Homo sapiens: one gene and its partners. The protein of the gene in region 7 purifies or fractionates together with the protein of the main gene of each other region. This does not show direct contact. Each region holds a gene or a part of one and is shown on either strand. Other genes may lie near its edges.

Region 1 (4,025 bases), on a different chromosome or scaffold from region 7:
CTTTGTGGTCATGGACCCTTTTAAGAGTCTACACAATTTCACCTTACACAAATGCATAGATGCTCATATACAGAAATCATGTCCAGGAATTCAGGGATTCCATTCGTAGATCTAACCCTGGGTTAAAAAATCCTGCATTAGAAGAATGCTTACTACAGTACAAAAAAAATGGGGTGGGGGCAAACAGTGCAGATCTTACGCTACCATTCAGTGTTGTGTTGGAAGCCAATGCAATAAGACAGTAAAAATAAAAGTATAACTGTTGGAAAAGAAGAGACAAAACTGTCCTTATTAAAGATAGGATTGTCTACCCAGAAAATCATCTGAACAAAGTTTTTTTAAAAAAGAGAAAAAAAAATATATATATATATAGACAGAGAGAAAGAGAGAAAGAAAGAGAAAGGAGGGGAGATTAGGGAGAGAAAATTTAGTGAGCCACTTAGAAAAATATATCATTGATGAAAAGAGTCAAACTCTGTAAAATATTTTAAGAGATTTATTCTGAGCCAAATATGAGTGGCCATGACCCATGACACAGCCCTTAGGAGGTCCTGAGAACATGTACCCAAGGTGGCTGGGGTGCAGCTCGGTTTTATTCATTTTAGGGAGGCATGAGACATCAATCAAATACATTTAAGAAATACATTGGTTTAATCCAGAAAGGCAGGAAAATTCAAAGCGGGGAGAGATGGCTTCCAGGCTACAGGTAAATTTAAACATTTTCTGGTTGACAATTGGTTGAGTTTGTCTAAAGACCTGGGATCATAGAAAGGAAATGCTCAGGTTAAGATAAAAGACTGTGGAGACCAAGGTTCTTCTGAAGTCTCATAGTGGCTGCCCTTAGAGACAATCAATGACAAGTGTTTCCTACTGAGACCTTTAAAAGCTGCTAGACTCTCGGTTAATCTCTTCAGAATTGGGAGGGCCTGGAAGAAAAAGAGCTAGCTATGTTAACAGAGATTCCTTACAGATGCAAATTTTCCCCAGTAAAGGACAGCTTTGCAGGGCCATTTCAAAATGTGGCAAAGAAACATGTTTTGGGGTAAAATATTTTTATTTTCTTCTTGGTCGTGTAGTGTCATGCCAGAGTCAGATGGAAAGTAAGTCACAGCATATAGGGTTAGATAAAACCATCTGATGAGAATTTATGGTTTGTAGGGCATGACTCCCCAGACCCCTTAGATAAGAATATAGGCAAGATAAAAAAATCAGAGCTTAGTCCTCAACATACAAAAAGTTATTGATTTTCTTCTATCAGTTAGAAGAAACATTTTCTAACAACCAGTTAGAAAATGTTGCAGAAAAATGCTATTTACACTAGTAAGAAAAACAACATAAACCCAAGGAATCAACTGAATAAAAATGTGCAGGACTTATGAAAAAAACTCAAAAAAATTTTTGAGAAATATATTGGAAAGACAAACCTTGTTTTTGGATAAGAAATCATCCCACTATCTTAAACTGATTTAAAAATATCAGTTATTCCTAACTGAATCTATAATAGAATGCAATTTTAATTAAAGTTTCCAAGAAAATTTTTTGCATTTTTGTAGATAGGAGTTTGCAAAATGAATCCAAGTTTTACTTGGTAGAAAAAGCAAGAAGAGTTGAGCAAAATAAAAAATAGAGTGATGAGAAAGCTTGTGCTATCAAATGAAACGATAAAATTACAGTTTTGGTTTTGGTGCTGGAACAGGCCAACACTCCACACAACCATGGGCATAACAACACACGAGAACTTAGGCTATGACATGGTGGCCTTTCAGAGTGGTGGAAGCAGGCTGGGATGAGGGCTCACCCTGTGACTAGAAATAAAGGTACTACCTCACATGGTGCTCCCAAATAAACTCCAGGAAAAGGAAGTATCTGAGTGCAAAACAGGAACCAAAAAGTCTTTGAAGAAAACAGAATGTATAAAATGTCAATGAAAAATCTATAATAATTGTGTACCAGATACTGTCCTATATCCCTTCATTCAACATTCACAATTGGACTTATGGCCTTGGACATAGGTACTATTACCATCCCCACTCCAACAGATGAGGAAACCAAGGCCCAGTGAGGTAACTTGCCCAGGGCACTCAGCTAATAGCTGAGGTCTGAAGCCTGGCAGTGTGGGCTCAAGTCTGCCCTCTTGACACTGAGCTCCCACATATGACCATCATTACAACAAAAGCAATATGAGCAGACTGGAAGCAGACTGAGAGCCAGCAACAATCTTCCCAGTGTAAGATATAAATATTTTGATGGACTGTTATTAGGTGCATAAATATTTATAATTATTATATCTTGCTGTATTGAGCCTTTTATTAATATATGATGTCCTTCTTTCCCTCTTGTAACCTTTTTTGATTTAAAGCCTATCTTGTCTGGTATTAGTATAGCCACTCTTGCTCTCTTTTGGTTACTATTTGTGTGGCATGTCATTGCCCATCCTTTCACTGTCAATCTATTTATGTTTCTGGATCTAAAGTGCATCTCTTGTAGAGAGCATATAGTTGGATTTGGCTTTCTAAATCCATTCTGCCAATCTCTGTCTTTTAACAGAGAGAGTTTGGAGAGTTTAATCCATTTACATCTAAAGTAATTACTGATAAAGAGGGACTTCTTTCATTTTGCATTTTTTTTCTGTATACCTTATGGATTTTTTTGTCCTTAATTTCCAGTATCACTGTCTTGTGTTTAATTAATTTTTTTGATGGTGAAACATTTAAATCCCTTCCTCATTCCCTTTTGTATTTATTCTTTAGTTATTTTCTTTGTTGTTACCATGGGGATTGCATTTTAACATCCTAAAATTATAACAGTCTACACTGAATTTATACCAGTTTAGCTTCAATGGCATAAACAAAACTCTGCTCCCTGAATGGCTCTGTCCCCAACCCTTTTAGTTATTGATGTCACAAAATTACACCTTTATATATTATGTGTCCAAAAGCATAATGTTATTTTTAAATCAGTCTCTTAAATTATGTAGAAAACAAAAAGCAGCATTACACACCATTGTTACAGCAATATTAGCTTTTATAATTGTCTATATATTTACCTTTACTGAGATATTTATTTATTTATTTATTTTGAGATAAGGTCTTGCTCTGTTGCCCAGGCTGGAGTGCAGTGGTGTGGTGACAGCTCACTGCAGCTTCAACCTCCCAGGCCCAAATGATTCTCCCACCTCAGCCTCCCCAGTAGTTGGGACCACAGGTGTGCACCACCATGCTTGGTCGATTTTTAAAAATATTTTTATTTTATAGAGATAGGGTCTCCCTATATTGCTCAGGCTGGTCTTGAACTCCTGGGCTCAAGTTATCCTCCTGCCTCGGCCTCCCAAAGTGATGGGGTTACAAGCATGAGCCACTATGCCTGGCTGAGATCTTTACTTCTTCACTTGAATTACTGTCTATCACCCTTTATTTCAACCCGCAGGACTCCCTTTGGCGTTTCCTATAGGGCAGGTCTAGTGGTAAGGAACATTCTCAGCTTTTGTTGATCTAAGAATGTGTTAATTTCTCCCTTACTTTTAAAGGACAGTTTTGCTGGATGTGGGCTTCTTGGTAGACAGTTTTTATTCTTTTAGCACTTTGGATATATTGGCCCACTGCCTTGTGGCCTTCAAAGTTTCTGATCAGAAATCTGCTAATAGTTTTATTGAGGATTCCTTACATGTGATGAATCATTCTTTCTTGCTGTTTTCAAAATCTTTGTCTTTGGGTTTTGACAATTTGATTAGAATGTTTCAGTGTGGGTCTCTTTGAGTTCATCCTGCTTGGAGCTTTTTGGGCTTCTTGGATGGTTATATTCATGTCATTCATCATATTTTAGAAGTTTTCAGCCATTATTTCTTCAAATAGTCTCTCTGCTCCCTTTGCTCTCTCTTCTTCTGGGGCTCCTACAATGTTTATGTTGGTTTGCTTGATGGTATCCCACAGACCCCTTAGGCTCTGATCACCTTTATTCAATCTTTTTATTTCTGCTCCTCAGACTCAATAATTTCCATTTTTGTATCTTCAAGTTCCCTGATTCTT
Region 2 (4,025 bases), on a different chromosome or scaffold from region 7:
CCACAGCCACACAACCACTAAGTGGAATGGCCAGCACCTGTGCCCAGGTAGCCAGGCTCCAGAGCCCAGGCACATCGTGATTATGCTGTGGTCCTTTATTCTCAGGTACCACCTACCTGTTAATATACATCACACACAAGAACAAAGACGATGTGTGAATGAAAAGCCTACACCCTTTAAAAATAATTCTAACATAACTGCAGGTTCAGACTGAGTTATGTTGGCAAAGCTGCCTGTGAAAACCTGCTCTGGGAGATCTGCCCACACACTACACTAATTAATCTACTTTCATAAAGACCATGGGACTGATTTTTATCTACGAGGCATGAAATGCATGTTCAGGAGCTTTGTTTCCACCAGAAAACCATCCAAACCAAATTGGATGATTTTTTAAGTTTTTCAGCTAATATCTCAATTTTTAAAAATTTCCCACCCTTACTGAGCCAAGATGGAAAATAAAATATATCATAGTCAATGTGAGAAAGACAACAAAGGAAAAAATAGATTTTTTAAAAAATCTTTAAAAAAAGGTTAACACTCCATTAACTCTCCAGGATTTTAGGGCAAAAAGAAAAAGCGAGTTACAGACACATTTATAGAGCACATTCCACCCCAGTAACTCAATGGGAAGATGGAAGTAGGATTGGCAGCATTTAAAAAATGGTGCCCCCAAACCAGCAGGCACTCACCTGGAGACGCCCATGCAGAGTTCCCAAAATTTCAGTAGGCATTTTCAGTTTAGGTTTTTGGGAGTTTTTGGTTTTAAGGGTTCTTTTGTTTTTGTTTTTGAGATAGAATTTCACTGTGTTGTCCAGGCTGGTCTCAAACTCCTGGGCTCAAGCAATCCTCCCACCTCAGCCTCCCAAGCTCTGGGATTACGGTTGTGAGCCACTGCACTCAGCCTCTAGCATTTTTTCTTAAATCAGGTTTACATGAAACTAATGATGATGAATTCATTAATGAGGGAGAAAGGTTATATTCTTTATTACTTGAAGTGACTCTTGTTCAGGAAAACTACTGAAAGTTTACAAATGAAAATGTCAAATTGTAGCAAGAGAAGGGAAAATAAAACAGAAATTATGGTTTCAAGGACATCACGAAAATTAAATTATTTTATATGCCTTAACAGATGAGAGGACAGTTCTCAAAATGTTCTTAATTTCTTTTTTCTTGATTTGGCAAGGAACTCCTTTCACAGTAAGGAAAGAGAAAAAAAATATGGGAAGAGACAAAGGGACAGACTCACTCTCCACCCAAAACAGTAATCTGACTTGATTTTAAATGCCAATAGCTGTGCCATCTTCTTTCCTCTGGTAATTATTACCTGCTGAACTTTTACTACGTTTTGCCAGTTATGTTTATTTAACTAACTCTTTATGCAAAGGAAGATAAGATTAGGAACATAGTTCTAATCACTATGGAGCTGATGGCAATGATGCTGATAGTGGTAGAGGCAGTGACAGTGGTAACAGTGACAAGCAATCTTTTGAATCTCACTACTAGAAAGGCATTGATACACCTTCCCAGAACTCTGCAAAGTGTAGCAGAAATACTTTTTCTAAAGGTCTATTATTCACCAAAAAAAAAAAAAAAGCCCATAATCGCTGGGCACGGTGGCTCACGCCTATAATCCTAGCACTTTGGGAGGCCGAGGCAGGCAGGTCACGAGGTCAGGAGTTCAAGACCAACCTGGCTAACACAGTGAAACCTCGTCTCTACTAAAAATACAAAAAATTAGCCAGGCATGGTGGCACATGCCTGTAGTCCCAGTTACTCGGAAGGCTGAGGCAGGAGAATCGCTTGAACCAGGGAGGCAGAGGTTGCAGTGAGCCGAGATCGCACCACTGCACTCCAGCCTGGGTGACAGAGTGAGACTGTGTCTCAAAAAAAAAAAAAAAAAAAAAAAAAAAAACTACAATCAATCCCCAATAAATGTAGAATTAATGTATTTTTAAATGAATAACAGTAATATAACCTACACTCCTGGCCATAAAAGTGGAAATGTAAATAAAATCTCCCCCATATCTGTCAAACAAACAAATGAACTCTTCCCTGAAGAAATGCCATACTTTTTCACCTTTATTAAATACATTCTCCATTTGAACAATTTAGTTATTACTATTTCCAACACAAATTGAGCCAGAAATCTATTGTGGTTTGGGTAAAACACCTCCCTATCCTGAGGATTTCTAAGAAATCCAAAACTGCTGGAAATAAGCTACTAAGACACAGTCTACTGCCTTACCCAACTTTACTAGAAGATAAATCTTTATTAAAACCAACCTTCTGTTGGGGGGCTGGGGGTGGCTCATAGGAAAATGAAACAATCAGGCTCATACCCATAATCCCAGCACTTCGGGAGGCTGAGGCAGGAAGATCGCTTGAGCCCAGGAGTTCAAGACCAGTCTGGGCAACATAGCAAGACCCCATCTCTACAAAAAAAAAAAAAATTTTAAACCTAGCATGCTGGCACTTGCCTGTAGTCCCAGCTGATTCAGGAGGCTGAGACAGCAGGATCACTTGAGCCCAAGAATTCCAAGTTGCAGTGAGCTATGATTTCACCACTGCACTCTGGCCTGGGCAACAGAGTGAGACTCTGTCCCTTAAAAATAAAAGGTATTTATTTGTTGGTGTTTGGTGTTTATGTGATGGAGAAAAAACAAAACATGAATCCACATCCAGATACTTGAAGATCCAGACCCCTGATTTAGAAGTCCTGGTTTATCTACATATTGTTACAACTGGAGAAGCCAGATAAAGCAAAGGATGTGAAGACAAGCAGGGAGAAGTGTCTTGATCCTCAAGTCCTCACATTACAGGAAGCATCTGCTCTGAGAACAATAACTCCCAGCCTCTGATAATACAGTAACATTCTCCTTTGAAACAGGAGAGTGCTCCTAGCAATGGCATTTTCAATGAAACTCTATGTCAATAGAGTCAAAAACAGCCCATGAAAGAAGCAGCGTTTTCCCTCCTTCCTTCCCACAGATCCATTCTGCTCCCAGGACAGCTTTGCCCGCCCCAGTCTTGAGTACTTGAACTTTCCTATGGGCATACAAGGAACCCTTCTCCCAAAAGAAGATCTAAGAATAAAGCTGAAAACCAAGCCACAACAACATGCACCCCAATGTAGGTACTATTTGTTGCAAAAAAAAAGAGAGACTGATAACAGAGATCACAGAAAAGACCTAACAGGTGAAATTCTAGAATTAGAGTATGTAAATGTCCAAGCAAAGCTCAAATATTTATCAAAAACATCCATATATATTCTGGATCTCTGCATTGCAGGAAAACTGCCACACTAGTGGAGCCAATATTATAAATTCTTTTTTTTTTAACTTTTATTTTAGTTTCAGGGATACACGTGCAGGTTTGTTATATAGGTAAAATGCCTGTCATAGGGCTTTAGTGTACATGTTATTTCATCATCCAGGTGATAAGTGTGGTACCCAATAGGTGGTTTTTTAATACCCTCCCTCTTCCCACTCATAAATTCTTAATGAATAAATAATGAATGTGGAACTACCTTAAGTATTATGTCCTGTGATTTAATATTTCAATATTTTCTTTAGCGACTATCATAAGATCAGGGGTCATTCATTTTCAGAAATGATAGTCCAATAACGAAAGTTGAAGTCTGCCCCCATGTAAAAAGGAAATGGACTTTCTGCATCCTCTTCTGCAGTATTATTACACTAATAATATTAGCAATTGTTGTTTATTGCATGCCTAAGAGGTACTATATACAGATTTTAACTTTATAACTGCCCTGGGAAATCAGTTTCATTATTTCCATTTTATAGACAAGGAAACTGTGGCTCAAAGCAGTTAAGTAACCTACCTAAGATCATACAACTAGTAGCAAAGTAGTACCAGGATTCAAACTCAGATCTTAAGGGCTAACCTATACTTCCCCTCCAGGGAAATAAGACCTCCCACTTCCCTGACATTGCTTCTATGAGGGACAAAAGTGACTTGCCCCTACACACACCATCTCTTCCTGACTCCTATTCCAAATATACCTA
Region 3 (4,025 bases), on a different chromosome or scaffold from region 7:
GAGCACCCAAGAGGCAGACTGGTAGGTAAGGGGTGGCTTGTCGGGGACAGTGGTCTCCACAGATGCAAGGAGGCCTCTGGGCAGAACAGATGCAGGTTCCCTGGCAGGGGCAGGGTTTGGGTAGTGGGATAGGTCACTTACTTGTTGGGGAAGACTCGGGTGATGCCACCGTCTGTGGCAGCGAACACGGCCAGTAGGCTGTACCTGGGGGTAGCAGGGGGGTGGGGTCACAGGCCTGCCTTCTGCTGGGCAGGTCCAGGGCCTCTGGGCCCATCCTAGCCTTCTGCCCCCACAGGCTGGGTGATGCCTACGTGTTGAGATCCTGGTCCCTCCACACACGCTCTACCAGCTGCTGCGTGATGCCCGTGTCCAAGATCAGGTTGTGCAGAAGGAAGTTGTTGCCTGGAACAGGAGGGGAGGGGTGGGGGTGGGGGCATCTTCTTGCAGCTCCTTGCCCACCCTCACCCCCACCCTTAAGGCTCCACCAGGAGCCTCCTCCATGACCTGGCCCTGGCCCAGGCCCAGCCCTTAGCTTGTGCCTGCTTATTTCCACACCTGCCCGGCCTCTGGGTTCCTCTGGGCTGGCCCCATGCTGCCTGGGCACTGCCCAGAGCCAGCTGCCCTGCCAGGCACTCACACTGCTTGGAGTCTGGAGTCACTTTCTCCATGAGCTCAATAAAGTTTTTCAGGAACTCGGTGTTGTTGTCTGAGGCATTCAGGTCCTTGCAGTACTCTCTAGGGATGGGGAGGGGCAAGAAGAGTGGGCTTGGGGGGCTGGACAGGGCAATGGGGTCAAGGCTTCCCAACAGGCCCACTTGGCCATTCACTGAGAAGCCTGGGCCTCAGGGAGGGGCACATGGGTTCTTCCTGGCTGCAGCTGCTACATGCCTGGCAGGCTGCTCGGGTCTGAGTCGGGGCAGAGCTGACACAAGAATGAGGGTCTACTTTCTCCATTCGGGCAGCTGCTTTCTCCTGGGCATGGCTCCGCAGAGCCTCCCGTCTCTCCGGTGTAGCTGGACCCAGATAGTGCACCTGAAAGGCCCCAGGAAATGCCTGGCGGCCTGCTCATCCACGTGTATGCCCTAGAGCATTCCCATGGGCACCAGATGGGACCCAAGTACAAGCACTGGCTTTTTGTCAGCCTAAGACCTCACCCTGCCTCTTCCTGGCTGTGTGCCGTTAGGTAACTCACTCACGCTCTCTGACCCTCGCTTTTTTCATCATAGCACAGAGGGTGTCAGAAAGTCAGTGGGAACATGTGGGTCCTCCGACTGGCTGTTCCCTCTGCCTGGAATGCTCCTCCCCTCAAGACCCTCACTGCATTCAGGCTCTGGGTCCAGAGAACATGGGGCTGTGGGGCGTGAGGGGGTCTGCTTGGGGCTTGCTGCCTAGGAAGTCTTGGGAGCAATCCCTCTACCCTGATAGGTGGAGCTCTCTCTCGCTCGACCCCTCATTCATACCTCTGCCACCAGGGACCGCTTCATTGTCCCATATGGCACTAACTGTGGGGCTTTTGAACGTGTGCCACTTCCCCAAGCTGTGGTAGGGCTCATGGCTTGGTAAGGGCACATGGAACTGGGTCTCAGGCCCCACTCTCTCCTTGGCCCCCAGGGCCTTTGTGCAGTGTACAGCCTGCACCTCTGTGCCTAGAGGCCACATTGGACACACCCAGGGTGACACCCACACGACTGTGCTTGAGATACACCAAGTCACTTGCAGTCTCTCCTGTATACACAGTATGCACGTGCACATTTGTGAGGTACTTCATTCACTCACCCTCCACGTATTTATTGAGCTCTTCTGAGCCACAGACACAGAGATGACAAAAACGAATAGGGTCCCTGCCTTCAAGAGAGCTTCCTCAGGGTCATGTGGGCCACATAGGTCTTTTCACACCTTCCCACATTCACTAACACACAGAGCCACCCCCACATTTATGCTCAGACTCTTACATATGTACATGGTGACTCACAAATACACACATCTACAGAGAGAGTCACAGAGAAACTGGGTGCATGCACATACGTGCACACACGAAGGTGAGGCATGTCCAGAGCCCCCGTGTGCTGCCTTCCAGTGCCCCTGGGTCTCTTGTCAGCTGCATCCACCCACCTGCCCTCATCCCAAGCCTGGGTCATGGAAGGGCTTCAGCACCCAGGGGACCCGGCCTCCCCAGACATGGGCCAAAGGCAGACGGTGTGTACATGAGAACGTGTGTGTGCACACTGAGCGTGCACTCCGGGATGGTCCAGGCCTGGGCTTGCTCGGGGCCCCGTCTCCTCATCTGATGGAGCAGCTCCTCAAAGCCCCCACTCTCCTCCCCCAACCCCCCAAGTGAAGTACCACGCCTAGACCCGGCACTGCCGACAGGGGCTCTGGCTGGCTCGGCCCCCAGACCCACACGAACACCGACTGACACAGGACAACGATGGGGTGCGGGGTTGGGGGGATGGGCAGGACACCACAAACCAGAGCAGCAGCTGCCTGGCGAGGGGTGGGCATGCCACAGACAGCCACCCCAGGGCGGAAAGGGCTCCTGCCTGGTTGCCTGGGAGGGCAGGGAAAGTCAGCAGATGAGTCTGGAGCCCTCCTGCCCCGGCCTGGTGGGAGCTAGGGCCGTGAGGCAGCTGGCCACTGCTGCCTGGTGCGGTACATGGCCTGGGTATGCACACAGCCGCGCATACCGGGCGATGTATGGGGGCCGGGGGATGACACTGCACAGGACACAGACACACAGAGCTCCAGGCAGCAGTGCAGGAGGTGGGGCCGGGGCGGTCAGGGTAGGGGAGGACACCTCAGCAAGGCCACACGCAAGCTACCTGGGAGCAATGAAAACGTGTCCTTCAGACTCAAAGCTGCTGGGGAGCAGGAACTCAAAATCTGCAACAGAAACGGGGGGTTATCCGGCGGGGGCTGGGGAGGCTGGAGGCCGGGGGGCTCAGAGCTGACGGGGCTGGAAGGACAGGGGAGAGGGGGGCTGGAGGGAGGGGGAGACACCAGCAAAGAGGAAACCCGCCATTTCCACGTCCAGGAGCCAGAGAGAAGGGACGGGCAGGGAGGGTGGAGGGCCTGTGGAGACTACAGCATCGCAGGAGGAGGGCAGTTATAGCCAATATGTTGCCCGGGCCTGGTCCTCTGTCGGCAGTGAGTCCCTTGGCGTGGCTGTATATGCTTCCATACGGCTGTATAGCACATATACACGGACACACACACACACATATATATACACACACTGCTATATATATGCATGGTCTGGGGGAGGCGCCAGTCTCGCTCTTATCACATCCATAATGGAAAAAACCGCATGCTGAGCTTCCTTTGCCTCCAAAGAGACTTTGAGGAAGGGAATTGGCTTTTGGCTGCGGATTTTTCTCTCTCTTTCTTTGCCGCAGCTGTTTGCGTTTTGGTAGGTCTTGCTTTTGTTCTGTGTCAGGCATCAACATGGCCAAACCGAGGGGGTTTCTCACGGGCACAAACAGTCCAACCAGAGACGGGTCGGGGCAGCTGAGGGTTCACTGCAGTGCATTGTCGGGGCTGGTGGTCCTCCCTGGGCTAGGAGGTGAAGGGAGACCCTCAAAGTGCCAAGGAGTGTTCCCACAGTGTGGGAAGAAAGTCTGAGGAGCTGGAAGGAGGACAGGGGTGCTGCTGGAAACTGTACCTGCTTCCCTTGGCTAAGGGCGTGGAGACGGGCTGGGTCTCCACCCTTCCTAAAACCTGTCTGGGCTCCAGGCAGCCATGGGGGATGCTAGGGCTCCAGAGAGGGCATAGGGCTGCTGTTGAGGCATCCCCAGTTGGGCCTGTGCCCTGGGCTTATGAGCTGTGCATGTGTGGGTGAGTGAGCATGCATGTGTGTGTGTGTGTGTGTGTGTGCCTAAGTGTGAGTATCTCTGTATGGGTTTGAGAGTGAACCTGAGGATGTGGCCGCTGGGGCTCCTCTGTGGCCTCTCCCTGCCCAGCTGGACTGGCCACCTTGCTGGTCTGCACCTGGGAGGGGTCCCTCTGCTCTTGGCCTGTCTCACTGTGGG
Region 4 (3,891 bases), about 28 Mb from region 7:
TTCTGGCAGCTCGCATTTGTCTTCAGGAAAACTACCAGTAGGAAGAACACCCAAGACATTTCTAAACCTTTGTGCTTTGTCTCCTTTAGAAATGATAGAGTTGGAGGGAACTGATGCCCAGAGATACGTAGTGATCTACTCAGTTGGGTAGTAGATAGTATGATTCATGGGTCTTAATGCAGTATATTTTCTACAACACAGTGCTTCAAGGCAAAAGTTAAAGTGTTATACTTTGGTAGTGTAGCGTGGTAGTAAAGTTAACTCCCTTTTACAAAAGTCTTAATTGTGTATATTTATACTTCATAAATAGCACACCTTATTGCCTCTTTAAGCAGAAGGAATGGAACATATTTAAAAGTTACCTTGATGACAGAGTCATTGCTATACTTGCAACTTATTTTATTGTGGGGGATCAGTGAAATACCCTCTAGTAATACTGAGATGTATAGAAAATGCCCCTAAACTAAATGCCCCCACTGTTTTAAGTTAAACTGTATTGTTGGCCTGGGAGCAAGGGTAATGGGTAGTTTTTCCTTGTAGTTAAGCTTTGAGCTGTCATTTCTTATTTTAGTTATTGTACTTGCCTATGAAGGCTCTTCTAATTTTTAATTCTTAACTCGTTTTGGTGAAGTAGATGAACAACCAAGTTTATTGAAGCTTTAATCATAGTTGAACATGTAATTGAGTCACTGGGATCTGCATAAAAGTTTGCAGATTCTGATATACAGTCTTTATAGGAGTTAGAATATGAAGATTGTAGTAGCTATTTTCATCACCCATCAGACTTATATGTTTATTCAGTAGAGCTGAAATTATTAAATGTATGAATATTACTGGCTTTTTCCTGACCATTCACACTTCATGGTGATTTCACAAGAGAAGGTATATGATTCTGGTTTCCTTGCAGACTTGTTTTTTATAATCACGTTTATTGAGGCTTAATTTTCATACAATAAATTTTATATATATTTTAAGTTTACAATTTGCCACTCAGATCAAGATACGGAAAATTCTCATCTATTGGAGAAAGTTTCCTCATACTTCTTTGCAGCCATCCTCCCCAACCTGCCACTTGGCCCAGGCAATCACTAATCTAATTTTTAACACTACAGATTAGTTTGCCACTTCATCTAAATAGAAACATATTTTATGTAGTTGTTTGTCTGGCTTTTTTCCTTCAACAATGTCTGCCAATAATATTGCATTTATTGAAAGTTACTTCATTTTTATTGCTGAGTAGTAAGTAGTCTATTGTGTAATGGATACCACAGTTTATACATTCGTCTGTGGATGGACATTTGGGGTTTTTACGCTTTTAAGTTGCAATGAACATGCATACAAGTATTGCTGTGATCATTGTTTTTCCTTCTCTTGAATAAATAACTAGAAGTGGAATTCTGGAGTCCTAAAGTAAAAGTGTATGTTTAACTTTATAGGAAACTGCCAAACTGTTTTCAAAAGTGATTTTACCATTTTACATTCCCACACTCACAATGTCTGAGAATTCATGTTCCTTGCTATAATTTAGGGAATTTTCTTTTACTTTCTGCCACACAGGAGTTTTTTACTTCATTAGATTAACACTTTGCTAATATAATTATTAACTTTTAAAGAGCAAAAAAAAAAGGCTTTGCAGATGAAAAGACCAAAGCCTATAATCAAAACATGACATGAAAAGAGTTTAGAACACCCTGGCTTCATAAGTTATCAGAAAGGTGAATTTTATCCTCAGACTTTTAGCAACACCTTTAATGGCTAGCCACTTGAGACCTTCTATAATACTTCTTTCAGAGTTCCTGCTGCTGCTTGAATTGTAAAAGCTGCAATAGAAATATGTTTCTTTACTTCTTTCCAGGCCAAACGAGAGTTGGCTTTATTTTCAATATCAAAGATAGCATCATAGATTCCAGGAAATGATTCTCCAGCATATTTGTTGTGGCTACTTGGAGCAAATATGATGTGCCTAAAAGGAAGAAAACAAGGCAAATTGAACTAAAGTGTATACATGCATTTTGCATGCTTTTTGTTTAGACCACATGATGTTTCCTTGTGATACTCACTTTTGTTCCTATAATAAGAAGACAGTTGATCTGAGATACTTATGCGAATCATAATTTCAAGCCAGGAAAGAAGCTAACAATATGCATTCGCTAAGACATATCTCAGGAATCATATACCATGTTGCGAACCCAAAGCAGATGGAAGAAAGCAGGTTCTTTTAAGTTGTGCAGAATAATTGCTCAGCGTCCCGTAAGCATCCACAAATATGGTGATAACATGTAAGTTTATGGATGTTTTTAGTAAGAGGAGATTGAGAAAGATAATTTATTTTTGTGTTGCCTTTTAAAAATAGATTAAACAAGAATGACAGTTGTTCCCAATACTTTTTAGACATTAAAAAACAAGTAATTAAAGAAGCCTGTATTTCAAAGTGTTACAAATGGCAAGGATAATGACGTCCATTCCACAAAGGTAAGACAGTTATATGTGGGTTGCCCGCAAAGACACTCAACTTTTGATCTAAAAAGAAAGTTTTATAGTTGCTTTTCTACTTCAACATAAGTAGCTCAAGGGATCAAGCTACTTTCCGCAATAATGACGTAGAATTTTGCTTTCCAGAAAGGGATGTATTTTATTAATACATCAGGAATTAGGTCCAACAGTCAAACCCCAAAGCTTATTCTAGAGTAAATCTGTATGAAGCAATATAGAGCTCCATATAAGTCAGTATTAATGATTAATGATTAATGACAAATCTATAACACTCATCATTCAGATTTACCAAAGTACATCAGGATTTATTATCTTGGCTTTTAAATCTTAATATGGCCTCAGATGGATTTTTTTAAAATTAAAATCAGTTTATGTGCTAAGTTGTTTATAAGCATTGGTATCCTGACCTGTATATGAGTCAAGAAATTAGAGATGCAAGTCATAGATATTCCTTAGTATACTTACCCTCTTCTGGAGAATTGTAAAGGAAGAATATAGCAAAAAAAATTTGATATAGGAAGCGAATAACCTTTGAATCATTGATATGGCATTTAATATCTCAGTGACCTTTGGCAAATTGCCTAAGTTGTCTAAATTTGTCCCAGATTTGTAAAATAATTGAAATAATGTAGACTCTGCTTAGAGTAGTGACTGAGCAGGTTGTAGACTGAGACTGCCTGTTTTTTAAAAATCAGAATACTAGCATATTTACTATCAACAGAATACTATCAACTATCAGCCTTGTGGCCTTGCACTGGTTATTTAACCTCCCTGTGCCTGTTATCTTAAAAATGATGGTGATAAAAGTACTGTTCTAAAAGAATTGTGAGAATCAAATGTTGGATGAAAAGCATAGCTTGACATTTAATAGGTGTTCAGTAAATATTAGCTATTCTGAAACTAAATCCTTTCCCTAATTTTCTCAGATAAGAAGCAGGCAGCAAGCTAAAAGAAATGATCAGACAATTGGTAATGCTTAAGCAACTCAAATACCCTTTTATGAAATGGTGGACTCAAATAGCTATTCTAGTCCCATAAGAATTCAAACTCTGGTCTAGTTCTCAAGGTTTCAAGTATATGATGATTTAATTACCCTCCACAATGGACATTTCTGAATTTTTAAGAGGCATCAAGAACTACTGAGCAGACTAGAGAATATGGTCAACACTTCATAGTCTTTTTTCCTCAACCTTCCCCTCAGTACATAGTAAGTATTCACTGATGAGTTGTGATAATGCAAAATTTCTTTTTTTTTTTTGAGATAGAGTCTCGTTCTGTCGGCCCAGGCTGGAGTGCAGTGGCATGATCTCGGCTCACTGCAACCTCCACCTCCTGGGCTCAAGCAATTCTCCTGCCTCAGCCTCCCGAGTAGCTGGAATTACAGGTGCCTACCACCAC
Region 5 (4,025 bases), on a different chromosome or scaffold from region 7:
TATACCCCAACACCCACCAAAGAATCCCTGAAGCTAATCAACTACTCTCTTAGACACCTGCCCACACAGACAATCTAAGGGAAGGGCAGAAGAGGAGAGCTGCTACAGGCTGAACCTCAATTTTCTTCATATATCCATGTAAAGGACAAGGTAAGAAAGGTAGTGACAGAAAAGTAGCAAAAACATTTATATACATGTTTAAAGTATATACTCTTACCTTGAAACCTCTCCTAGCAAAAAATTTTCTCTCTCCTAGCAAAAAATCTTCAATAAACCCAAACTACTCTTAAGTATTGCCCACATGGGCAATAAGGGAAAGGGAAAAGAGGAGACTGTTATACATCCGGAACTCCATGGTTCATTAGGTACCTTTCAGTCTGGGCACCCGATGAATTAATACAATGTAGTAGTAAAAACATGTATATACATTAAGTGCATTTTCCTACCTTCCCCGTCCCTCCCCCTCACCTCAAATACGCCACTTGACAACTACTCTGTTAGCTACTGCCCAGCAGTCAATAAGGGATGAGGAGAATGGGAGACTGTTATACATCGAGATCTCCACATTTCATTGGTACTTTCACATCCATGAGAAGGACACAGTGTGAACCAAATTAGTAATACAATGTAGTAGCAAGTTTATTTATATACATTAAGTACATACTCCACTCTCCCCCACACCCCAAAACAAAACAAACTACTCTATTAGCTATTGCCTAAATAGGCAGTAAGGAAAAGGGAAAAGAGATTTGTCATACTCTGAACCTCAATTTTCATTAAGTATATATGCATCCATACAAGGAAACAAGTATAAAATGAAGTATAAAAAGGTGGCACAATATTTATACACACTTGAAAGAATAATATACAACCCCAGCCCCAAGACTAGATCAAAACAACAGCAACTAGGACTACTCTGTCAGTTATTGTCCATGCGAACAATAAGGAGAAACGCAAAGGGGACATCTGTCATGCTTTTGGACCACCGCGTTTTATCTACACGTCCACAAAATGGATGAATGAAATACAAAATGAAATAACACAAAATAGCAAAAACATCTGTACACACTTTTAAAAGAATATAGCTTGCTCTCCTCTCAACATCACCACCTTCTTCCAAAGAAGGAAACCAAATAACTAGTCTGTAGCTACTGCCCATACAGGTAAAATGGGAAGGGTAGATGAAATTTTCATAGGATGATATATCACTCTTCATCAGGAAAAAAATATACAAAATGAAATAATATAAAAACTATCAAAAACATGTATGTACATTTTTAAAGTATATACTCCCAAAAAAACCACTGAAAAAAATCGATCAACTTTTCCATTAGCTGTCACCCACACAGGCAATAAGGTTAAGGGAGGAGATTTACCATACTTTTGAACCGCTACTTTTCAGGTAGTACTTAACTGGCAAAGCAGGGAATGGAGCACAAAATAAAAGAATGCAAAAACAAGCAAATATATATATAACTTAGTTTTTAAAAATACAAATGGGATGAAGGGGGAAGGAAGCTCTTTAAAAAGAGATTTAATTCCAATAAATACAAAAGTAACAAAGGCATAGGTGAGAAGAAAAGCTATGTCATATCCATGGCCTCAGTTTTTAGAGAGGCCTAAGTAACAAAATCCACATCTAGTTTTGCAGCCCAGGAAATGCTGTCCTTGGAGGTGGCTCATCTCAGATGTATTTGCCTTCCCTGAAGCCCCATGAAACATGGGGATTATGTGAATGTTTAGCAATCTGATGGCAGATTATGGTTCCAGGTACTTTGGTTTAAATAGACTCTTTTTAAAATCCATCTCAACAAACTGTCAGTAATCCAACAAAATCAACACTTAACTCTTTTTTTTTTGTTTTTTGTTTTTTGAGACAGTCTCGCTTTGTCACCCAGGCTGGAGTGCAGTGGCACAACCTTGGCTCACTGCAACCTCCGCCTCCTGGGTTCAAGTGATTCTCGTGCCTCCCAGGTAGCTGGGATTACAGGTGTGCACCACCATGCCCAGCTAATTTTTATATTTTTAGTAGAGATGGGGTTTTGCCATGTCGGCCAAACTGGTTTAGAACTCCTGGCCTCAAATGGTCTGCCCACCTTGGCATCCCAAAATGCTGGGATTACAGGCATAAGCCACCGCGCCCAGCCAACACTTAACTGATTTCTTATTTCCTAATAGAAAGGATTCTGTTTGGTATCCTATAATACTGATGCAGCTTGATTTGCTCTGTACACCCAGGAGTCTTCTGACAACTCTTGTGTTCCTGTGGTGGCTAATGTCCCACAAAATGGAAACACATATGGCAAGGAAAATTAAAGTAGAACCTGTGATAGTAAGAAAGTTCATGAATGCTGAAACAATGACAACAAAATTTCATTTAAAGAGACTTAAATAAAACAAGATGGAGGAAGGCCCAAGCTTATGGTGAAGCTGATACTACTTGCAGTTTAATATATCTAACCATTTTATATTAACAGAACAAACTGGACTTATCTAATTCCTACATTCATAACTTTTTTAGATCTCCAAAGCATAAACATTTCTTCCACAACTCAAGATTTCCAATTCTTTTTTAATAATCTAGTATGATGACCCTTTTATATTCAAGTAGATCTCTCTGCAATGAGAACACTTGTTCAACAAGTACTTGTGTCATGAATCTGTGTGCTTAAATAAAAGAAGCATACTGTGACTTCTGTGCTTCAGTCTGAGTTCTCAGAAATACACTGGCTAAGACAATGTTTTGAGAAGATAAAACTTTGAAAGCTACCATTATACCTATTACACTACAAGTTCTACCTCTCATTTAACCTTACATTCCTGACGTAGTTTTTAGAAGTCCTATATAGATGGGTTAGTTCAACATTAAAATTATGGAATTCTGTGGGAAAAACTGAGGCAAGGCCTACTAAAACTACAAATAATTAAGGTAAGGGCAACAACATCAAAAAAACTACAACTATTATGGATCTGGTATTATGGGAATGAACAGCCTTTGAGTAATAAAGATAGCAATGGATCATGAGTTATCTCTTTTTCAGGCCAAGTTTTGATAAAGTTTTACTCATAACAATACCCCCCACACTACACACACACACACACACACACACACACACACACACACACACACACACAGAGAGAGAGAGAGAGGGAGAGAAATGATATAATTCAAGACAAGATTTGCCATATGCAGAGTTAACTAACATACATTATAGGAGCGATGTCAAGAAGCACAGGTAAAACTGAAGAATCTTAAGTGATTTTGAGAAGTTACAAAATTTAAATTTTGTATCAAAGTGGAATTTAGTACCACATGGTAAAAAACCAGCAACGACAACAAAACTCTCAAAAGTTTAGTATTTTTCCCTCACTCTAAAAATATAAAAACACATTAACTTTCACTATCAACTAAATTATCATTCATTTAACCAAAGCACAAGAATAAAGACTTACAATCACTTCAGTTGAATAAGACATATTTAGATGATTCTGTGATTCTCAGGATATAATATTTTCTACTCTAAAACAGATAAATTTTAGAAAAGACTAAATTGGGGAAAACACACTAGGATTAAAGAAGACTATTTTTTTAGCTTACCAGCCTTTTAAATTTTATTATATAAAAATATTTTCATAAAATAAAATATAATTTTATTCACAATTCCATACATTCTAACTTGATACCTGCCGAATAAAAAAAGGGTGACCTTTCCCACTGTCTGACTCTGTGGAGTGTTTTAAGTGCTCACAAATGGGTAAATACCCTTTTTATGTACATAGAAACTGTTTTCAAACAAAATATAAAGTTCTCAAGAATTATTAGGAAGAAAGCTTTTCTCCTAAGAATCAAAGAAACACAACAATCTAGGTATAAGTCTGCATAGCTCAAAAATTCAAGTACAGTATTTCTCTTTCAGAAGGAGTAAAATGCCATACAGTTTCGGACATCCTCCCTCATTTTTCTTCTTTCCTTCTTTGACCACTCCTTTTATGTTAGTTTGGACACACAAAAAAAGAAAAACTAC
Region 6 (4,025 bases), on a different chromosome or scaffold from region 7:
ATAATAGAAATAATTGTTATCTATAGTTTCATTGCAGTCTCATCTGAAATCACATATTCTTTTGCAATAAAACACATTTCTTTGAAAACGCAACTGCAGGAACACTGTTAATGTCTGGCAATTTGTGAAACAGAGTAAGCAGGTTAAACCTGGACCTGTTTAGGCAGGAGATTTGTCTAATGTGATTGCTTATGCTCTGAGCCCACTGAGGCCCTTATTTTCTATCAGTAGCCAGACCTCCCGATGGGGCAAATTAGCATCATCTGCCAACTCCCTTTGTTCACATGTGAGTGGGGATAATGGTGCAGATTAAACATTGGACCTTGAGCTACTACCTGGCTCTCCCACTGCCATTCCAGGGCAGGACTAAGGAGAGGCCAGTACAACAAGGGGTGGAGCACTAGAGATGGAGGCAGAGGTAGATGCCAGGGAAGGAAAAGTGGATATGTCCAGGGAGCCCAGGCAGCCTTGAGCATGGAGGGCTGATGGAGCTGGAGTCACAATGAGAAAGGGAACAAGAGTCTTCCCAGACACCCTGTATTCCTTGGTAAAGGGCTCTTTTCCCCTCCACTCCCATTACCACGGATGGTGAGTCACAAACTCAAATGCCTCCAGTGGCACATGACAGGGCATATAAATAAGGGAAGTAGTCCAAGGATAAGAAGAATGCTCTTTTACATTCTTTTTCCCCTGGACTTTCAATGGAAACATGCAAGCAAGAAAGACTTTTCTGTTTGCTACCGGTAAAACAACAGCCAAGCACAATGGTAACTGGCAACACACTCTCAGCCTCGGTGAGAAGACAATAGAACAGTTGGGAATGGCAGGGAAAGTGGAAAAGCAGAGCCTTGATCTTACAAAGAGAGAACAACAACTTAGCTCCAGCTTATGCTGCAAAGAACATACAGTGGCCAAATCCTCCTTTTTCTTCCCCAAGAGAAGCTAGAAATCTGGATTTTACATAAAATCTCCCAATCATTAAACTGTTGTCAACAATTCCCAACTCTGTTACTAAGCACACTGTGCAAGACAATTATTTGCGTCTCAACAATATTAACCATTGCTGAAGGCCTTGAAAAGTAAGCTACACGAGGGCAGGAATTTTTGTCTAGTACAAAGTTGATGCTCAATCAATACCTATTTGTTGAATGATGAATAAAAGCAGAGTTTCTGTAAGCCATGAATTTTCAACCCAAGAAAGAATATATGAAGAATTTCCCATAAAATAATCTTTAGGGTTATGAGCCAAACTGCAAGTTAGTCCTAAAAGAGTTGACTCCAGCCAGCACGTGTCAAGAGAGAAGGCATTCAATCTGGGTTTAACCCCACAACCTTGCCTATAACTTCTCCACCCCAGTATGTATAACTTTAGTATCTAAACTGTATCCTTATACTCAATCTACTTTTACCTTATCATAAGAAACATCATCAAACATCTCCCGGATCTGAGCAGGATTTTCCACAGGTGTAGACACAGGGTGTGAGGAATTTAAAGCATCTACCTCCATTGCGTCAAAACATTTGCCAAAGAAATAATCTCCCTATTGAGATAGAAAAAAGAAAACATCACCTATGATTTACATTTAGATAAAAAATGTCAAAGGTGGGACATTTTATCTGAGGCAAGAAGTCCATACTTCACATTTTGGGGGCAACCTATTCCATATTTCCTAATATTTATGAAACAAAATAGAATTAATATATTCTAAAAGCTACCCAAGAAACAATGATTTTAGTTAAACATTATAGATTTTGTTCATCTTAAGTCCTTTAGAATAAAGAAAATTTCGTATTAATCTAAAAACGAAACAATTATGCCTATAGCCAAACAGCAACACAACAAGAAATTAACTGTATAGTAATTTCAACATTTCCAATCATTGTCTGTACTGTTTTAGAGCAAAGATACTTACCTTTAAAAACATAATGAAAATAAATGGAGAACCTTAACCAGCTTTATTAGAGCACATTAGCTCAACAGGACAATATGTATCCATAATCATTTTTATTACTAAAGATCATGTAGAAACATAAGAAAATATTTAGGATTATAATGCAATATTGATGTGTACTTTCTAATTATGTACACAGGCAGATGAAAATAGGCAGTAATAAATATTCACAAATGTATATTTTAAATAATGTATACAGGCAGATGAAAATAGGAATAAATATTTACAAATGAAAAGAATCATTGGAGTAGGATAAAAAAATTTTTACATAAGTTTAATTTTGCTATATGTGATTTTCTTAAGTTAAATGTGGTGATTTAAAAAATAAACCATATAGCAGTTCCAAAGCAATAAATTTGTGATCCAGAAGCCTAGGTTGTTATACAATCAAATGTGCAGTTACCTTAAGTATAACTCATTTGATTTGGCAAGTAGGGTCCTATTGAGATATCAGTAATCTGTACCTAATAATTCTGCAATGAGCAACCTGAAGGTTGGGAAAATGAAATGGAACATTTAGGCTGCCATTATTTCTATTTCTTTGATATTAAGAAATATAAAATCGGACAATTTACAAACAATCATAGATTCACAACTGAGTTTGTAAATAAGTCTTTGTGGTATATCTTGAAAGTTCACTAGCATTTTTGCAACACGATTCATATCTAAACTGTCAAGGAAGTTATCAGTGAAATATTTTTATAAGTTCTATAATCAAAGATTAGTGAATATTTTCCAGCAATATTGAACAAAACAACAAATTAACCTCAAATGTGAAGGATAAATAACTACTTACAACTTTCAGTTCAGGATGGGTCACACTGACAGACACAAACTCCATAAATTTGGCAAATCCTTCATTTAGCCAAAGATCATTCCACCATTCCATAGTGACCAGGTTCCCAAACCACTAAAAGCACAACATAAGCCATAAACAAAGACACTCAGAAAGAAGTATATTTTAGATGTCCAATATAAGTTTATGAATGTTAACATATATTTACAGGACCAATATTTAATCAAGGTAAAAATAAAAAAAGTTCAACATGCATTATAAGACATAAAAACGAATGCTTTGGAGAAACAATTTTTCCTATTAAAAAAAGACAAAGTAAAAATTATATAAATAGCCTTATATGTCCCATAGAAGCAATATAAATGTAGTTTATACTTTATTAAAAGTGTGAATGAGCTTATACCTGGTGAGCCAGTTCATGGGCCACAGTCATTGTGATGCCAAGCTTACTTGATGCAGAAGACTTTTCTGCATCAAACAACAGAGCAGATTCTCTATATGTTGTCAGTCCCCAGTTTTCCATAGCACCAGACTGAAAGTCGGGAATAGCAGCAAGATCTTGGGAAGGAAGTAATAAAATACATTACCAGTCTCTAAGCTATACATTCTCCCAAACACTAATCTTCAGAATGGATAGGTGTTTGAACCAGCTGCCCGTGCATAATCATGGAGCTCTAGACTGGAAGAACCTTTCACAATGGAGAAAAAGAGGCTTAGTGACTCAGCATCACTTTGCTATAAATGTGGCAAAGTCAGACTTGCATCTCAGGCCTTTTTTTTTTTTTTTTTTTTTTTTTTTTGGAAACAAGGTCCCACTCTGTCACCCATACTGGAGTGCATTTGCAGTGGTATAATTACACCTCACTGCAGCCTCAACCTCCCAAGCTCAGGTGATCCTCCCATCTCAGCCTTGCAAGTAGCTGGGACTACAAGAGTGCACCTCCACACTCAGCTAATATTTTTGTACTTTTGTGGAAACAGGGTTTTGCCATGTTGCCCAGGCTGGCCTCAAACTCCTGGGCTCAAGTAATCCACCTGCCTGGGCCTCCCAAAGTGCTGAGATTACAAGACATGAGCCACCGTGCCCGCCTTTTCAGGCCTCTTGACTCCATTTCTAACCTTCTGATGAGGAGTTTGGAAATTGAAAAACTAAACAATTATAATAATCCATTCTATTTTGGATGCCCAAGACCCACATATACCTAAAAAATCAAACATACAATAGTTTTAAGGGCTTGTGTAAGAAAGAAAATTCAGATTGTCTTACACTATATAAA
Region 7 (4,234 bases):
ACCCTCATAGCTGTAAACCTCACCACCAACCCTCCCCCTCCTTGGTGGCAGCAGGGCTGATTCAGGGACTCCGTCGTCATCCTGTGTGATGAAAGTGAGATCCACTGTTGCCCTCAGCTTGGACTCAACTAAATCTGTCAATGTGTCTTTGATGACAAAACCCGTAAGGTCCCCTTCCTTCTTAAAGGTTTTCCTGGCTGGATCTCAGCCCTGCTGTCTGTGAGAAACACCAGAGCAGTTTAAACAGTACAGAAAGGAGGGATTCACCCCAATGCTACTGAATCAAAATCGCCAGAGAGAGAAGCCTGTGGGGTCAGTATGTTTTAAAAGCTCCAAGTGATTTGACTACATAGCTGAGAATGGAAAGCTATGGCCTGGGCTGTGACTCCTCTCAAATGTAAGTTTATTTAAGAGAAAAATTTCTGGTGATTAAACTCACACCACATGAAGGCACGGCAATGGGAGGGAAGGCGGGTGTGTATTGCTTTGTCTGGGGGCTTCCTTCACTTTCCCTTAAAAATGGGATTGGCCCAGGCAGCACAGATAGGTTTGAAGTGGAAAACTTGAGCCTAGGGGTTAGGGGGAAGTGACCACCCACCCTGTTCCTCTGTCTCTTCCCTTCTATTATCTTCCCAGCCTAGAGCCCCACTGATGTATGATTGGCTCTGAACACTCCAAAAGCTCTTGAGAAAAAGAGTTAGGTTATTTAATCTTCAGATCAGCCCTAAGATAAGACGTGGGTGGCTACACATCACAGAAAGCTTGCTTTTTATAGATAGAAAATGTGAATCTTGGCCATATATATAACTGCACGTATAAACAAGATTCAGGTTTGGGAGTGAGGCAGGCTAGAGAACAGGTGCAGCAGATGTTTTTCCTCAGCATATCTTCTACAGGTGGGATGTATTCAACTATGTTTTCAGTACCTATGCAGTGAACATGGTGGTGATGGAAGGGGCTGAGGGGAAGGATTAGACTTTCCCAATGTGCAACTGAAACAAGCCTGCTTGTTGTCAGACATGCAGGGGGATCAAAGCAGGGTCTCCTTATGTCCCTGCTCTCCCATAAAGAGAACACAGCCTTCCAGCTTCCTGTGCCTTGTGAAGCCATAATTCACCTGTGCCCCTGCACTGCTACAAAGATAAAAAGAACTAATCAGCAAAAGCTCATAAGGAAATTGAGGATCCCAGGAACATTTCCAGATGTACCTGAACACTCACCTGGAGCACAGAGCAGAGTTCTCACAAGGCTGCTGTCTTGTGCTCCGCCCCACTCAGATGCAGAGATTCCTAAGGAGGTGACATTGATGGACGGCAGCAGCCCTGGCTTGGAAGGGCGGGCTGGGAGCCAGGCCTCATGACCTACCAGGTGCCCCGGTAGGTAGGACCAGCCAGGCTCCCTAGGTACAAATAGCCCTGGCCTCCATGACTACACAGGCTCCTGGAGTCGAATCCAAATCACTCATTGTGAAAGCTGAGCTCACAGCCGAATAAGCCACCATGAGGCTGTCAGTGTGTCTCCTGATGGTCTCGCTGGCCCTTTGCTGCTACCAGGGTGAGTACATCAGTCATGAGTCCAGCACCAGCCCCTGGGATGCACCCTCTTCTGAGCACAAGATCACCTATTTGTGCTTTGGGTTGGGGTCTGCACAAAACCAAACAAAATTCCAAACCCTTTTCTGTGCTTGTTGAATAAGATTCATAAAGGTTAGAGCTATTTCTTCTTTCTTCTTCCTTTTTTTTTTTTTTTTTTTGAGAAGTTTTGCTCTTGTTGCCCAGGCTGGAGTGCAGTGGCATGATCTTGGCTCACTGCAACCTCTGCCTCCGGGGTTCAAGTGATTCTCCTGCCTCAGCCTTCCTGAGCAGCTGGGATTACAGGCATGGGCCACCACAGCTGGCTAATTTTGTATTTTTAGTAGAGATGGGGTTTCTCCATGTTGGTCAGGCTGGTCTCGAACTCCCGACCTCAGATGATCTGCCCGCCTCGGCCTCCTAAAGTGCTGGGATAACAGGCATGAGCTACTGCGCCTGGCTGCTTAGAGCTATTTCTTCTAATCCCCAGTATCTAAGAAGTTTTATAGAAAAATCAGTTCAGGCAAATGTTAGGAATTCTTCTGCCTGAGCTTCACTTCTGAATGGGATCTGTGTCAGATGATGTAATGTGAGGTCTGGGGTGAACCTGGGCTTCGACACTTCCCACCCCTTGATCTTGGGCACAATGCTCACCCTCCTTGAGCCTCCTCTTATCACTGGTGGTTAAAGCTTCTGCCAGGAGTGGCTATGAGAATGAAGTAAGGTTATGGTTGTCAAGAGTCAAGCTGTGGGCCAGGCATGGTGTCTCATTCCTGTAATCTTAGCACTTTGGGAGGCCACAGTGGGCAGATCACTTGAGCTCAGGAGTTCAGCACCAGCCTGGGCAACATGGCGAAACCCCATCTCTACAAAAAAAAAAAACAAAACAAAACACACACACACACACACACACACACACACACACACAAAAGCGGGCATGGTGGCAGGCACTGGTAGTCTCAGCTACTTTGGGGGCTGAGGGAGGATCGCTTGAGCCCAAGACATTCAGGCTGCAGTGAGCCGAGATTGTGCCACTGCATTCCAGTCTGGGTGAACCTATCTCAAAAAAAAGAAAAAGAAGTCTAGCTGAGGATATGAAGCTCTTCCCTTTGTTGTGTGACCCGGAGAAAGTCACACCTGGAGTTTCTGGTATTGTCATCAGCACAATAATGGTATAGAAACATAGAACCCAGGGGATCCTGTCTGGTGTAACCTCAGGGAGCCATGAGAGAAAAATCGACTTTCCTAACATCAACAATATTTTTATTTTTGTGCTGCAGCCCATGCTCTTGTCTGCCCAGCTGTTGCTTCTGAGATCACAGTCTTCTTATTCTTAAGTGACGCTGCGGTAAACCTCCAAGTTGCCAAACTTAATCCACCTCCAGAAGCTCTTGCAGCCAAGTTGGAAGTGAAGCACTGCACCGATCAGATATCTTTTAAGAAACGACTCTCATTGAAAAAGTCCTGGTAATTTCTTTCTCCTTTATGCAGAGGCAGAATTCAACTCAGCTGCACACAGCCTCCTGCATGTTTCTTGTCAGGTCACCTGCCTGGATGCTGTGTCCCCAGAGTGTGCTGAGGACATGGGGAGTGAGCTAGGGCCAAGGCAGGGATGGTGAAGGGCCAAGCACGGCCGCCTCCCTGCTGGGATCTTTCCTGAGGTCAACCTACCCTCACGCAGTGGACACGGTCACTATGGGATGTCCCAGGGAGTGTGGGAGATTTGAACAGGGAGAGGAGGCTTGAGGGGACCTAGAGCTGGGCCTCCCACAGACAGGGTGCTGGTGAACTGGGCTCCTGTGCAGCTTCTGCAGAGCCAGGAGCCCCTTGCAGCTCCTCAGGGCCCACTATCCACTCCTCATCCATGACACTCTCCTGACCACAGCCAGTGGGCCAAGACTTTTTCGCTGCTCTACCTACTGCAACGCCACACAAGTGGGATGTTCTCACTATGTCTTTCTCAAGAAATCAGAGATTCCAGGGCCCTCTCAGCCTGGCTGCCTCTGGATTGTTGTCCTGAGGTTTGGCTGCAAATACCCATAGAAGCTGCAGGGTCAGGGCTGATAAGACCCCTGGCCGTTAGGCAGAATTCTCCCATGGGAAGACTGGAGTCTCCTGGAAGGTGTGTTTCCCAGAAGCCCTCCCTGCCCTGCCTGGCTTCAGAGCCCTGGGTCCCCCATTACAGGGATCAGGAGACTCCACAGACCTGGGACAGCCCAGACAACAACCTCTTGCTGCACTGTCAACCCCTCCCCTCCTCCTCCATGAAAACCCTGGGCCTAACTCCTGGGTCTTCCCAGGTCTATTGGTCTGGTGGGGAAAGGCTGCTTTCTCACCAGAATGGGTGTTGTAAGGCCACCAGGTCTAGGCCTCAGTTTCCCAAACTGAATTCTTGCCTCTGCCTTTCCAATTGCCATTGGGGCAAAATCCCATTGGCCTCTTTGATGTTAGCCTATCATCACCAGCAGCAGCATGACTGACCTCACCTTTCTTTCTTTCTTTCTTTTTTTTGATTTCAGGTGGAAATAGTGAAAAAATGTGGTGTGTGACATGTAAAAATGCTCAACCTGGTTTCCAAAGTCTTTCAACGACACCCTGATCTTCACTAAAAATTGTAAAGGTTTCAACACGTTGCTTTAATAAATCACTTGCCCTGCACATCT

Evidence for each region.
Region 1: the proteins of SCGB1D4 (region 7) and COL6A2 purify together in Homo sapiens (affinity purification with mass spectrometry; 2 studies listed by BioGRID and IntAct, with this or other methods). This does not show direct contact.
Region 2: the proteins of SCGB1D4 (region 7) and CD109 purify together in Homo sapiens (affinity purification with mass spectrometry; 2 studies listed by BioGRID and IntAct, with this or other methods). This does not show direct contact.
Region 3: the proteins of SCGB1D4 (region 7) and CACNA2D2 purify together in Homo sapiens (affinity purification with mass spectrometry; 2 studies listed by BioGRID and IntAct, with this or other methods). This does not show direct contact.
Region 4: the proteins of SCGB1D4 (region 7) and NAALAD2 purify together in Homo sapiens (affinity purification with mass spectrometry; 2 studies listed by BioGRID and IntAct, with this or other methods). This does not show direct contact.
Region 5: the proteins of SCGB1D4 (region 7) and LNPEP purify together in Homo sapiens (affinity purification with mass spectrometry; 2 studies listed by BioGRID and IntAct, with this or other methods). This does not show direct contact.
Region 6: the proteins of SCGB1D4 (region 7) and ERAP1 purify together in Homo sapiens (affinity purification with mass spectrometry; 2 studies listed by BioGRID and IntAct, with this or other methods). This does not show direct contact.

The regions. Positions count from the first base shown.
Region 1 is NC_000021.9:46,104,440-46,108,464, reverse strand, and holds part of COL6A2 (collagen alpha-2(VI) chain isoform 2C2 precursor), read right to left. Parts: intron 1-4,025. UniProt on the Homo sapiens protein: Collagen VI acts as a cell-binding protein.
Region 2 is NC_000006.12:73,698,678-73,702,702, reverse strand, and holds part of CD109 (CD109 antigen isoform 1 preproprotein), read right to left. Parts: intron 1-4,025. UniProt on the Homo sapiens protein: Modulates negatively TGFB1 signaling in keratinocytes.
Region 3 is NC_000003.12:50,367,501-50,371,525, forward strand, and holds part of CACNA2D2 (voltage-dependent calcium channel subunit alpha-2/delta-2 isoform b precursor), read right to left. Parts: intron 2,881-4,025; coding exon 2,820-2,880; intron 736-2,819; coding exon 638-735; exon of another isoform or gene 403-637; coding exon 312-402; exon of another isoform or gene 296-311; intron 205-295; coding exon 142-204; intron 22-141; exon of another isoform or gene 1-21. UniProt on the Homo sapiens protein: The alpha-2/delta subunit of voltage-dependent calcium channels regulates calcium current density and activation/inactivation kinetics of the calcium channel.
Region 4 is NC_000011.10:90,189,630-90,193,520, reverse strand, and holds the end of NAALAD2 (N-acetylated-alpha-linked acidic dipeptidase 2), read right to left. Parts: intron 1,964-3,891; coding exon 1,774-1,963; 3' UTR 627-1,773; downstream 1-626.
Region 5 is NC_000005.10:97,029,731-97,033,755, reverse strand, and holds part of LNPEP (leucyl-cystinyl aminopeptidase), read right to left. Parts: 3' UTR 1-4,025. UniProt on the Homo sapiens protein: Release of an N-terminal amino acid, cleaves before cysteine, leucine as well as other amino acids. Degrades peptide hormones such as oxytocin, vasopressin and angiotensin III, and plays a role in maintaining homeostasis during pregnancy.
Region 6 is NC_000005.10:96,790,652-96,794,676, forward strand, and holds part of ERAP1 (endoplasmic reticulum aminopeptidase 1 isoform b precursor), read right to left. Parts: intron 3,396-4,025; exon of another isoform or gene 3,336-3,395; intron 3,307-3,335; coding exon 3,152-3,306; intron 2,863-3,151; coding exon 2,749-2,862; intron 1,542-2,748; coding exon 1,410-1,541; intron 1-1,409. UniProt on the Homo sapiens protein: Aminopeptidase that plays a central role in peptide trimming, a step required for the generation of most HLA class I-binding peptides.
Region 7 is NC_000011.10:62,296,276-62,300,509, reverse strand, and holds SCGB1D4 (secretoglobin family 1D member 4 precursor), read left to right. Parts: upstream 1-1,434; 5' UTR 1,435-1,499; coding exon 1,500-1,554; intron 1,555-2,851; coding exon 2,852-3,038; intron 3,039-4,090; coding exon 4,091-4,100; 3' UTR 4,101-4,229; downstream 4,230-4,234.